Linked DNA regions of Homo sapiens. The protein of the gene in region 3 purifies or fractionates together with the protein of the main gene of each other region. This does not show direct contact. Each region holds a gene or a part of one and is shown on either strand. Other genes may lie near its edges. The genes, in order: LRRTM4, TCEANC2 and GPC6.

Evidence for each region.
Region 1: the proteins of GPC6 (region 3) and LRRTM4 purify together in Homo sapiens (co-immunoprecipitation; one large-scale study listed by IntAct). This does not show direct contact.
Region 2: the proteins of GPC6 (region 3) and TCEANC2 purify together in Homo sapiens (co-immunoprecipitation; one large-scale study listed by IntAct). This does not show direct contact.

What each region holds. Positions count from the first base shown.
Region 1 is NC_000002.12:77,515,843-77,519,578, forward strand, and holds part of LRRTM4 (leucine-rich repeat transmembrane neuronal protein 4 isoform a precursor), read right to left. Parts: coding exon 2,476-3,736; coding exon of another isoform or gene 2,470-2,475; exon of another isoform or gene 816-2,469; intron 1-815. UniProt on the Homo sapiens protein: May play a role in the development and maintenance of the vertebrate nervous system. Exhibits strong synaptogenic activity, restricted to excitatory presynaptic differentiation.
Region 2 is NC_000001.11:54,084,608-54,088,107, reverse strand, and holds part of TCEANC2 (transcription elongation factor A N-terminal and central domain-containing protein 2), read right to left. Parts: intron 1-3,500.
Region 3 is NC_000013.11:93,828,203-93,831,938, forward strand, and holds part of GPC6 (glypican-6 precursor), read left to right. Parts: intron 1-1,951; coding exon 1,952-2,343; intron 2,344-2,613; exon of another isoform or gene 2,614-2,753; intron 2,754-3,736. UniProt on the Homo sapiens protein: Cell surface proteoglycan that bears heparan sulfate. Putative cell surface coreceptor for growth factors, extracellular matrix proteins, proteases and anti-proteases. Enhances migration and invasion of cancer cells through WNT5A signaling.

The DNA.
Region 1 (3,736 bases), on a different chromosome or scaffold from region 3:
AGTAAGAAGTAATTAGGGTTTTCCCTATAACAATTTCTAAGAGTTTGCTTTTCCTCACCATTTATATCTACCTATAACTGTAATACAGCAAACATTCTGTCAAAAAATGGGGTGACCCCTGCAATGTTTGTTTTTGTATGCTTTCGTTTTAAAACAAGTTGAAATTCATTTAAATATAGTTTTATAGCACCCCCCTCCTCATCCTAAATGGACATATGATCTTAAATGTATAGCCTACTAATGTCCATGTTTGAGGGCACAGAAAGTTTGAGCTACTTTAGTAAGGATTCCATTTTGACTCAACAGAATTATTACAATATTTAATTACATTCTTCATTACTTAATGCCTTAACAACACATTCATTTTCAACAATACTAGTGCAATTTCATGACATTAAATGTCAATCTATATAACACATACAATATCAAAATGTGTTTATTTAAACACACGTTTTAATTAAATGAACCATCTTTTAAACTTGTTTCTGTCATGGTAATGCCTAGGGTTTTTGATGGAATAATCTGTGAAATTTAAGATCTCTGGAAAAGTCTTAGAACCCCAGTTCTCAAATCCTGGTTCTTTAAGAATGTTTCTTTCTTCTTGGTGATTCTTAAACATAAAAGTTAGCATTCTACTCCAAAAGTCAAGAGAAAATGAATTAATGCGTCTAGAATTTTCTTTTCTTTTTATATACCAGCCTTTAAGAGGATCACAAAATATAAGGAGAACCCAGAATAAAATAGGATGAACTTGTGTTACTAATACTCAAGTATATTGTATAATTGTGGGCCTGCAATAAAAACATCAAGCCTTGTTAGACTTTTATAGAAAATCTTTTATTCTTTTTAATTTTTAAGGGCAATTGCTTATACAGTTTCCTTTTAGGAATTTATTATCTGGGATTACTTCTCTTATTTTCAATGATACACAAAAAAGAAGAAAATGAATTCTTTGAAGAACAGTTCAATAGTCCAAATTGTACTGAGTTAGAGATTATTTCAAATTCAGTGCTTTGTCTGAAAACATTTTCATTAGCATTTGTAGTTAGGACTATGGAAAAATTGGAGTATATGCTATCAAAGAGCAATTATATTTTCCAACTGTTAACTAGCATTAGAAAGGGCAACATCTTTAATTACTCATTAAAACTGTCTTTTGAAAGAGTGATCATCTAAAATCAGATACTAAAACATTATATTGCCAGAATTTAACCTCTCTTCACTAGTTTCTTCCAGCAACAAGGCCTTAGTAGTCAGTCTTTGCACATAATGATCAACATTACCAAGAAAAGAACAATTTACATCCAGCATTACTTATTGACAAGTTTGAAATTTGTGACTATTTGTCTGCTCACTAACATGATCCTGTAAGTGATCTTTTAAATTAAATAATCAGAAACCGGGTCCAAATTTATTCTTATAAAAACAAAAATAATATAACATGGAAGGTACACCTTTATTTGAGGCTGTTACAGAAAGGGAGGATACCCAGAACTCAAACCTCTCTCCTTTTATTTATAAATATTTGTATCACTTATTTTTTAATAAGTTTAACAAGAATACATATCATTTCTTTTGGGGATGACAGCAATACTGACAAACAGTCCCTGTTATGACTGCCATTTTATTATTGCTAAATCATCCACAAAATTGTGACCTGATTTTAGTTACCAGGGACAAAGCCAAAGCATGGAATTGAAGTTTCATTCTGATTAAACACAAATAGCCAGTGCATAAAAACCTTTGAAATCGGATCTATATCCCAGTAATTAAAAAACAAACAAACAAACAAAAAAAGAAGGAAGAGAAAGGAAGGAAAGGAAGGAGTGAAAGAAAGTAGGAAAGAAGGAAACAAAAAAAAAAAAAGAAAGAAGCCTTAGGAGCCTGATACAATTACACAGTAGGCCTCTGACATTCTCTATGCTGGTATAATAACTAAATGGCAAGTAACATGGGTGTGAGATCCCTGTTGCATGCTTTCATTAAAACTAAAAATTTACAACAAAATCAACCCTTGGGAAAATTGCTCTTTGGTTTAAATCTTCATTACCTTCTGGAATTTTGGTAAACTCACTTTATTTTTAAATTAAGCTGGCCCTCTTCTTTACTCCATTACAACAGTCAAACACCAAGAACCAGACAGAAATTTCAGAATGAAAAGAGTTTTGTTTGTATGTGTGTTTTTAAGTCCAACCCCTGTATACAAATTGTTAAAAAGCAGATGTTTTAACATAGTGCTTTATTCCAACTTATCCTTGAATGAACTTCCTTCAAGTTTCAACCATTTAAAAAAAAAAAAAAAGCAGTCAATTTCCTGGTGGTTGTAATTTAATTAAGTAACCTTTCACACTGAGCAAAACCCAAAAGCAAAAGGGTCATTAATCTTTCTAGTGATTAGAGACACCTCTAGGGCTTCAAACATTTACCTCTCCTTCCCCGCAGTAGAAATGCTTTTAGGAGGATCATGGTTCATACCTCACATTCCCTGGAGCCAGAGATGGTATATGTGCAGGGCCCAGATCCATTAACCGATATATCCATGGTCTCAGAGTTTGTAGGCTTGTAGTCCACATAATACTCCTGTAAAGGGGAATTCATTTGTCTTTCAGACTCTCTGGCCTTTTTCCGCCGCCTCTTCATAAGAGAGTGTTGCTGGAGTTGTTTCATGCTGGCTGGGTAGCGTTTCCAAGACACATAGATCACCAAGAGGATCATGGCCACTGAGAGAAAGAGAGCCACACTCCCGGCAATAATTTTGTGAAATGAAACATGCTCATACTCTTGCTCTGCGCCAGGAATCTGAAACCCTGGGGAAGGGCTTGGTGTTTCAAAGGTGGATTGGGTGACGTCAGGTTTGAAGATGGTAGGTCTAGGGATAATCAGAGGTTTCTGGGGAGTTTGGGGCACCAGGTGTGATCTTTCTGTGTTGACCACCTGGACTTCAGAACAGATATTATATGTTTCCACTGCATCACTAACCTTTTCACCCTGGATGTGCTTAGGTCCCGCACATATCATGGTGCTTTCCTTATTTCCTTTGAAATTCTTAAGCCAATAAAATAAAGGACAAATGCTCCGACTGCATTCCCACATATTTCCAGACAATGTGATGGATATTAATGATATCCACGCATTGACAGTTTCCTGTGAGATATTGGTGAGCTTGTTGGAATCCAAATTCAATTTTTGTAAATTGGGGAGGCATTTAAATGTGCCCGGCTCAATTCCTTGGATGTCATTCCCTGATAAATCCAAGTTGTGTAAGGAACTCCAAGTCCATGTCAAACCTTGGCTAATGGAGCGAATCCTGTTCCATTGTAAGTAAATTGAGCGGAGGTTGAAGAGACGTGGAAAATGAGCAAAGTTGATCTTGGAAAACTGGTTGTGCTCCAGGTGGAGCTCCTTTAACTTCAAGAGGCCAGCAAATGCATTTCGGGACAAGCTTCGAAGACGATTGTAACCCAAATCCAAAAAATCAAGATTCCGACAGTCTTGAAAAACTCTTATGGGCACAGTCTTTAGTGAGTTAGATCTCAAGTGCAAAATGATGAGTTTCCGAAGGCCTTTAAATTGTTCAGATTGCAATGTCTGAAGCTTATTGTAGGAGAGGTCCAGATTGCGGAGATTGGGAACTGGGTGAAATGTTTTATTGTGCAGATAAGTAATTTTGTTGGAGCTTAGAATTAATTCTTTCAGTCTACGGATCCCTTGAAATGCATCTTCATCCACTGAGCTA
Region 2 (3,500 bases), on a different chromosome or scaffold from region 3:
GTCTGATGGGGAAATTTATAATGGAGGGATGAGCTGTCATCATCTAAACCCACTGTTCAATGTTAGCATCCCTAAGAGTGGGACTGTCAGACAGAAGAAACAGAAGAAGTACTTCGCACCCTTAACCTATGAAGTAGTCTTATCCTCTTCCCCAAAAGAAAAAGAACAATAACCCAGTTAGTCATTCAAAGCTAACTTCCAATTCATAGGAAATAGGAGAGACAGAGGAATAAATTAAATTGTAGTATGAAGAAACAAGACAAATTCTGAATGTGGGACATTCTACAGGACAACAGATATGGTTTCTTCCACAGTCAGTGATTTTTCTCTTTGTTGTTGTTTTTTGTTTGTTTTTATTTTTGAAAAGGGGCTAGGGTTAGGGACTGCTGTAGATTAAAAGAATCTCTTGAGTACAAACTACCAAATGCGACGTGTGATTCAAATCCCAGTTGGAACAAACCAACTGTTAAAAGATATTTTGAGATAAACAAGGAATATGAATATGCACTAGATACTAAATTATACCATGGAATAATTGTAAACTTTGTTAAGCACAATAAGAATGGCACTGTGATTACAAGAGAAAATATCCACATTTTTTAGAGATGCATACTGAAGTATGTAGAGTTGAAATGACAAAAGGTCTGAGATTCTACTTTAAAATACCTCAGCAACAACACAAAAGCAAAAAGGGAAAGATGAAGTGGGACAAAATCTTAATAGTTATTGAATCTAGATGAAGGGCATATGAGAGTTAGTTATAATATTCTCTTTATTTTTGTGTATGTTTGAGAATTTCATAATAAAAATGGAAAAAAGGTGAAGGGTCAAAAATATCAATATGCAAAGTACTTAGATAAAAATAAATACCTAGAAAGGCTAAAGAAGTCAACTGAACACTTAAAACTAAAAGTTTAAAAAATGGAAGAATATAAGATACATATATATTTTTTAATTTTTTATTTTAATGAACTTTTTAATCCTGCTCCATGGGTTGAATATAAGACAGATATATTTTTAAAAACCAATAGCTTTCTTAAGTCAGCAATAGCCAGTCAGAACACCACAGGGGAACAAATCCTGTTTAAACTAGTAAAAACTATAAAGCACTTTGGAAAGCATGGACAAGAATGGGTGTGTGAGCACTTGTGCTGTCTGTTTGTGCCCACTTCCTTAATGCTCCAGGATTCCTCCTTTTCCTCCATCCCTAGCCCCGCTGCCCTGCCTTAGGGCATGTTGCCTCCAGTTGACTATGGAGGCACCCTGATTGACCTCTCCAGCTAAGTTTGGTACCCCTTAATGCCATCTTCCACACTGCAGCTAGGATAGCCTTTATTTATTTTTAGTGTTTTGTTTTTTAGGGACTTTTTTCCTAAAGCATAAATTTGACCATTTCACTCCTCCACTTAAATCCTTTGGTGCTATATCCACTCTTACCTTTTCATAAAAGTCCCTTCACAATCTGCCACCCTCCTACCTACTTTCTATCTTCATTTCCAGCTACTATCCACTGTCATCCAATACTCCAGCTACTTGCAGCTCTTAAAACATTTTATTTTTTATCTCTTTACTTTTGAGCATACACCCCAATGAACATTCTGTCTGCCTGAAATACTCTTACTTCTCTTGTTATCTGGCCAACTTCCATTCGGCCTTTAAGACTCATTTAAGGGTCCCTTCCTCCAGGAATTCTTCCTTAATATCTCTAGTCTTGGTCAGTACCCCTGCTCTCTGCTTCCTTAGCACCTTGCGCTTCTGTTTATCATGGTAATTACTAGAGTTAGTTGTAATTATTTGATCAGTTATCTCTTTTGTTCACCAACTTGAGCTTCTTGCAGAAAGAGCTATGCAAGAAATCCCCTAACCTTAGGGGATGCTCATCTTTGTATCTCCAGCAGTGAGCATCGTGGCAGGAGATGGGAATCAGGAGAGCAGGTTGGTTGAATGAGAGACTCATATAAAGAATAACATACATTCCTACTAAAATACATAACAGAAGATTGGAATAAAGGGAAAATATACCTTATTATGAGATGGAAAAATGAGCACAAAAATGCCAATATAGAAAGTAGTCGCCTGGGTGCAGTGGCTCATGCCTATAATCTCAACACTTTGCGATGCCAAGATGGGAGGATCACTTGAGCCCAGGAGTTCAAGACCAGCCTGGGCAACATAATGAGTCTCTATCTCTACAAAAAATTAAAAAATTAGCCAGGTGAGGTGACATATGCCTGTACTCTCAGCTACTTGGGAGGCTGAGATGGGAGGATGGCTTGAACCTAAAAGTTCAAGGCTATAGTGAGCTGTGATCATGCCACTGCACTCCAGCCTGGGCAACAGAGCAAGACCCTGCCTAAGAAAAGAAACAAAAAAGAAATTAGTTTATAGATTTTATGTAATCTCAACCAAAAATCTCAGTAGGCTATTTTTATTAGATTACAACCAAATACTTCTACACAAATATAACTGAGCAAGAGTATAAAATGCTATTTTGAAAAAGAGGAGTTATGAGGCACAACTAGCCTCATATCTAAGATCTAAGATATTAGAACATATTATAAAGTAACAACATTGAAAATGATATGGACCAACACCAAAAAAGAAAATGGATAGGGAATTTTAAAAAATGAAGGTCGCAAACAGACCATAGTACATAAGAATTTAATACATAATGAAAGAGGCATCATTGAACAAAGGGAAACAGAAAAAAAATTTTTATTTGAGAAAATGGTCAAAACATTTAGAAAATTTCTCCAATTATGCCAACTGCATGGCCCAATATTGTTTGATTCCTTTATTCTCCACACATTTATTGAAGGCCTGTTTGCTCTAGATACTATGCTGGGCACTAGTCATGTAGGGCTTAAACAAGCAATTGTCCCTGCTTTACAGGTTCTATGAAGAGAATCCTGGAGTTGAAAAATAAAACTTTGAAGGGAAGACAGGGTAAAATAATATTGAGTCTTTAACTTCTCCCTCTAACCAATTATTTATCAAGAATTTGTACCTAGCCTTTCTATGGACCTGGGAAAGGAGTACATCAACACTCATCACAAGGAGGAAGAGGAGGAGGAATGCAGAGCACTCATTAGAAATGTCTAAAGGTGCTTCCTAGCTAGCGATGCTTAGGAAAGTGCATTCCAATGCACAAAGCACAAAGCACCCCTGGATACTTTCCTTTTCTAGGTGGAGTTCTCCTTATCCCTGAGATTATTCATTCAGCAAGCAAGATTTTATGCTCTTGGTCACTGTAGTAGATGCTAAAAATAAAATGATAAATAAGATCGTACAGGATATCAGACCTAGATCCAGAGCATTTAAACACTTTTTTTTTTTTAGACGGAGTTTTGCTCTGTCACCCAGGCCGGAGTGCAGTGGCCACCATGCCTGGCTAATTTTTGTATTTTTAGTAGAGACGGGGTTTTGCCATGTTGGCCAGGCTGGTCTCGAACTCCTGACCTCAGGTGGTCCACCCGCTTTGGCCTCCCAAAGTACTGGGA
Region 3 (3,736 bases):
CTCATTGTATTAGTATTTTTCAATTCAGTGATTTTCCCATTCTTTTTTATCTTCTTTCACAATCTGTTACGCCTTCCACCCTGTTCCTGTATCAGCAAGGCCAAGCTACTTTCATTCTTGGTTTCCAGATCGGAAGGTTTAACTTATGATATTCTCATACTTTTATATTAATAATTTAATATAGTTTCCATTTTAGGACAAACTAGATAACTAGCATTTTTGAAAAAAGTATGAAATTCTCTTGATTTCCTAAAATGATAAGCAATATCAGCATACAGCATATATAAATATTTTGATAAATTTATGCTTCTCAATTTTGCAAATTTCGCCCTATCTGCTTCAATAGTCATTTTCTTTACCGAATCCCTAAAGATTCAGAGAGATTTAATAATATTCAACTTTATTTTACATTTAGTAAAAATAAAAACCATTTGGTGACCTGGACAAAATTACACAGTATTTGTAATCCCACAGTTTTTGCTGCCACTGTAGCAACAGAATGTCTATTTAAAAATATATATATATTTCATAGAAAGGAGGTAAACAAATGAAAAGTACTTTCATTGCTGCTTTGGTCTGATTTGAAAACAAATATAAAACATTTATCATTATTATAGACACCATTTAATTATCAAGACAATGGTTTGATTGTATATTAATCAGAACTGAAGTGGCTAAACCAAGCACTTCTTCAGCCAACTTCTAAGAATGCACAAGTAGCTTCCATGGAATTAATGGAGAGGTGTTCGTCACTATTTCCTTTCTGTATCTTAGCAGAGAATACCCAGAACCCCAGAAAGGAGAAGAGTCCTTTTAAAAAATTCCTGGAGCTTTTGAAATATGCAGGACTTGATTTGTCCCTGCATTTCTGAGAAGGGGCATAGTTTCAGGCAATAAACGGGGACTATGAAGAGGTAAAGCAGAATCATTTTACTCTTGGGAACTTAGATTGATAACCTCAGAAGCATTATCTTTCCTTAGCTCTTTCCCTACCCCAATTTATAATCTCTAAATGAGATAAAACTTGAACTTGCTCTACCCAAGCTTATTTGTGCAAAAGGATAGGTGCCCTACACACACAAAGTGTGTCTTGAGGGAGACTAGCATGAGGGCCAGTGAGGCTAATGATACCCAATGGCTTTAATTTTTGTCTTATTTTTTTGCATCCTATAAGGGATCCCAGTAACACTCAAGCGCTGTTGCAAAGTGGAAGATTTGAATTATTGGTGTGCACTTTTTCATTTAGAACCTCATAACCAGAAAGTCCAATTGTCAATATTTTATTCAAGTTCTATAACATGATGGTTTATATTTGTAATGATAATCCAAGATACTTTAAGGCTTTCTGACTCATTATGGCCACCTAAATTATGCTCATTATAGCTTTATTATGAAGTGAATTTAATTGCATTATGAATATCTGAACATTGCTAATTGATTGCTATATATAGAAACTAGAAAGAGTCTAAAATATGACATTAATTTGAACATCTCATTTATGGACTATTTCAAATAAAAGCAATTTAATGGAATTTAGTGTTAGGACAAATTTATAAATAAACTGAAGCAAATGTGTTTATCATTATGTAAACAACAATACTCTGCACGTTATATTTGCAATATATTTTGATTTGAGTTTGTATCAAACCATAGGATTATTTAAAATTTAACAAGAAATGATTAAAGAATTGAGCTATTTTGGAGGAGGATTACATGGTAGACTCCTAATGTTAATGGAAATCATGGGGTATTCTGTTTTGAGTTGTACAAGGTCATAGATGTAGGTCAAATCCCATTTAAAATATGTTTTTTATCTGTCCATTAACACCTTAATCACAGGATATGTTTTTCCATGAAAATGTCAATTAAAAGCAGTTGTACTTAAGGTAAGTGGGTGCCTTGGGCTTTCTAGATTTCATTAATTTATGACTTCTTTCTGTTTTATCTGCAGAATTTTTCCGAGAGCTCCTGGAGAATGCAGAAAAGTCACTAAATGATATGTTTGTACGGACCTATGGCATGCTGTACATGCAGAATTCAGAAGTCTTCCAGGACCTCTTCACAGAGCTGAAAAGGTACTACACTGGGGGTAATGTGAATCTGGAGGAAATGCTCAATGACTTTTGGGCTCGGCTCCTGGAACGGATGTTTCAGCTGATAAACCCTCAGTATCACTTCAGTGAAGACTACCTGGAATGTGTGAGCAAATACACTGACCAGCTCAAGCCATTTGGAGACGTGCCCCGGAAACTGAAGATTCAGGTTACCCGCGCCTTCATTGCTGCCAGGACCTTTGTCCAGGGGCTGACTGTGGGCAGAGAAGTTGCAAACCGAGTTTCCAAGGTAATTGAAAACGTGCTTTCTTTCTCATTGGTGTTCCTTGTTTATTCTGTTTTTAAAACCAATGTTTAAAAAAAAAAAAAAAAAAAAAAAAAACCAAGGTAAAAATTCTTAATTGGTGGTCCTTGCTCTTAATCAGTTAAATATCAAAGCATAATTCTGGCTTTCTTTTCCTTGCATTGTGTGAGAGAGAACAGGATTTTAAGCCATTCTATGTGGTTTGAAAATTAATGTTAATACTTATCAGCAGTATAGCAGAGAAGCTTTTAGTACCAATGGTGCAAAAGCAGGCACGTTGCAACTATGATCATTTGATATTTCTGATCAGGGTTTTAAGGATGATAAATACTCATGAAAGAATCCATTCAGAGGTTATAATCCTCTAGGGAGTCAAGATGACAGTCTTCATGGACCTGCGAATGGAGACAAGTTATTGTTCAGGACATCAGCACCTGGCATTTCTTCTTTTTCAACACATGTCAATGTGGCCAAATTCCTTCATGGTAAAAGAAGAGCCCTTTGCTGACACCTGTATTACTGGATTAGGAAGGACTAATGAGTACCAAGTATAGATTCTCCTAGAGAATTTCTTTTGTTACCCCTTATCTTTGTAATTTCATACCATGCATTGCCTTGGGCTTATGAATAAGATCAATCATTAATCTACTTTTGGGCCTTTCTTGAAGATAACATCTCTATACCTTGGATATAAGGGATAATTCTACATTCCACTACTTAAACATTGAATATTTCCTGTGTAGAGGATATCTGCTTTTGTTTAAGTTCTTTCTTGACATTTAAGGCACTTGTGAGGTCAGTCCTCCAAATAAAATGAAAGACAATTACTTAAAGAAGTAAAGTTAAAAATAATACGTAACAGGAATCTGGTATTATGTCACTCCAAGAAGGTGTATTTGTATAAGGATTATTCCCAAACACTACTTTTCTATTGGAGGGCTGTGCCAAAGAGCCACAGTATTTTTCATAACTATTGGTACTGTCCTACAATGCTTCTTTTTTTTTTTTTGACACTTTGGTCTCCTCAATATTTACATCCTAGCATAAAGATGGTGTGTACCCTTACAAATGTTTCTCTATTGCACTGTCAGTAAAATCCGTAATAGCCCATTTTAAATTGTTAATTTCCTAAACGTTTATTTGAGCATACAGAAAGATTATTTCTAGGAAGGCGCTGAAGGAAATAATTACAAGGGCTTATTTATCAATATAAAGGGCATATGATTCTAATGTTTAAAATAATATCTTTGCCGGGCGCGGTGGCTCACATCTGTAATCCCAGCACTTTGGGAGGTTGAGGCGGGCAGATCTCGAGGGCAGGAGATCGAGACCATCCTGGCTAACATGGTGAAACCCCATCTCTACTAAAAATACAAAA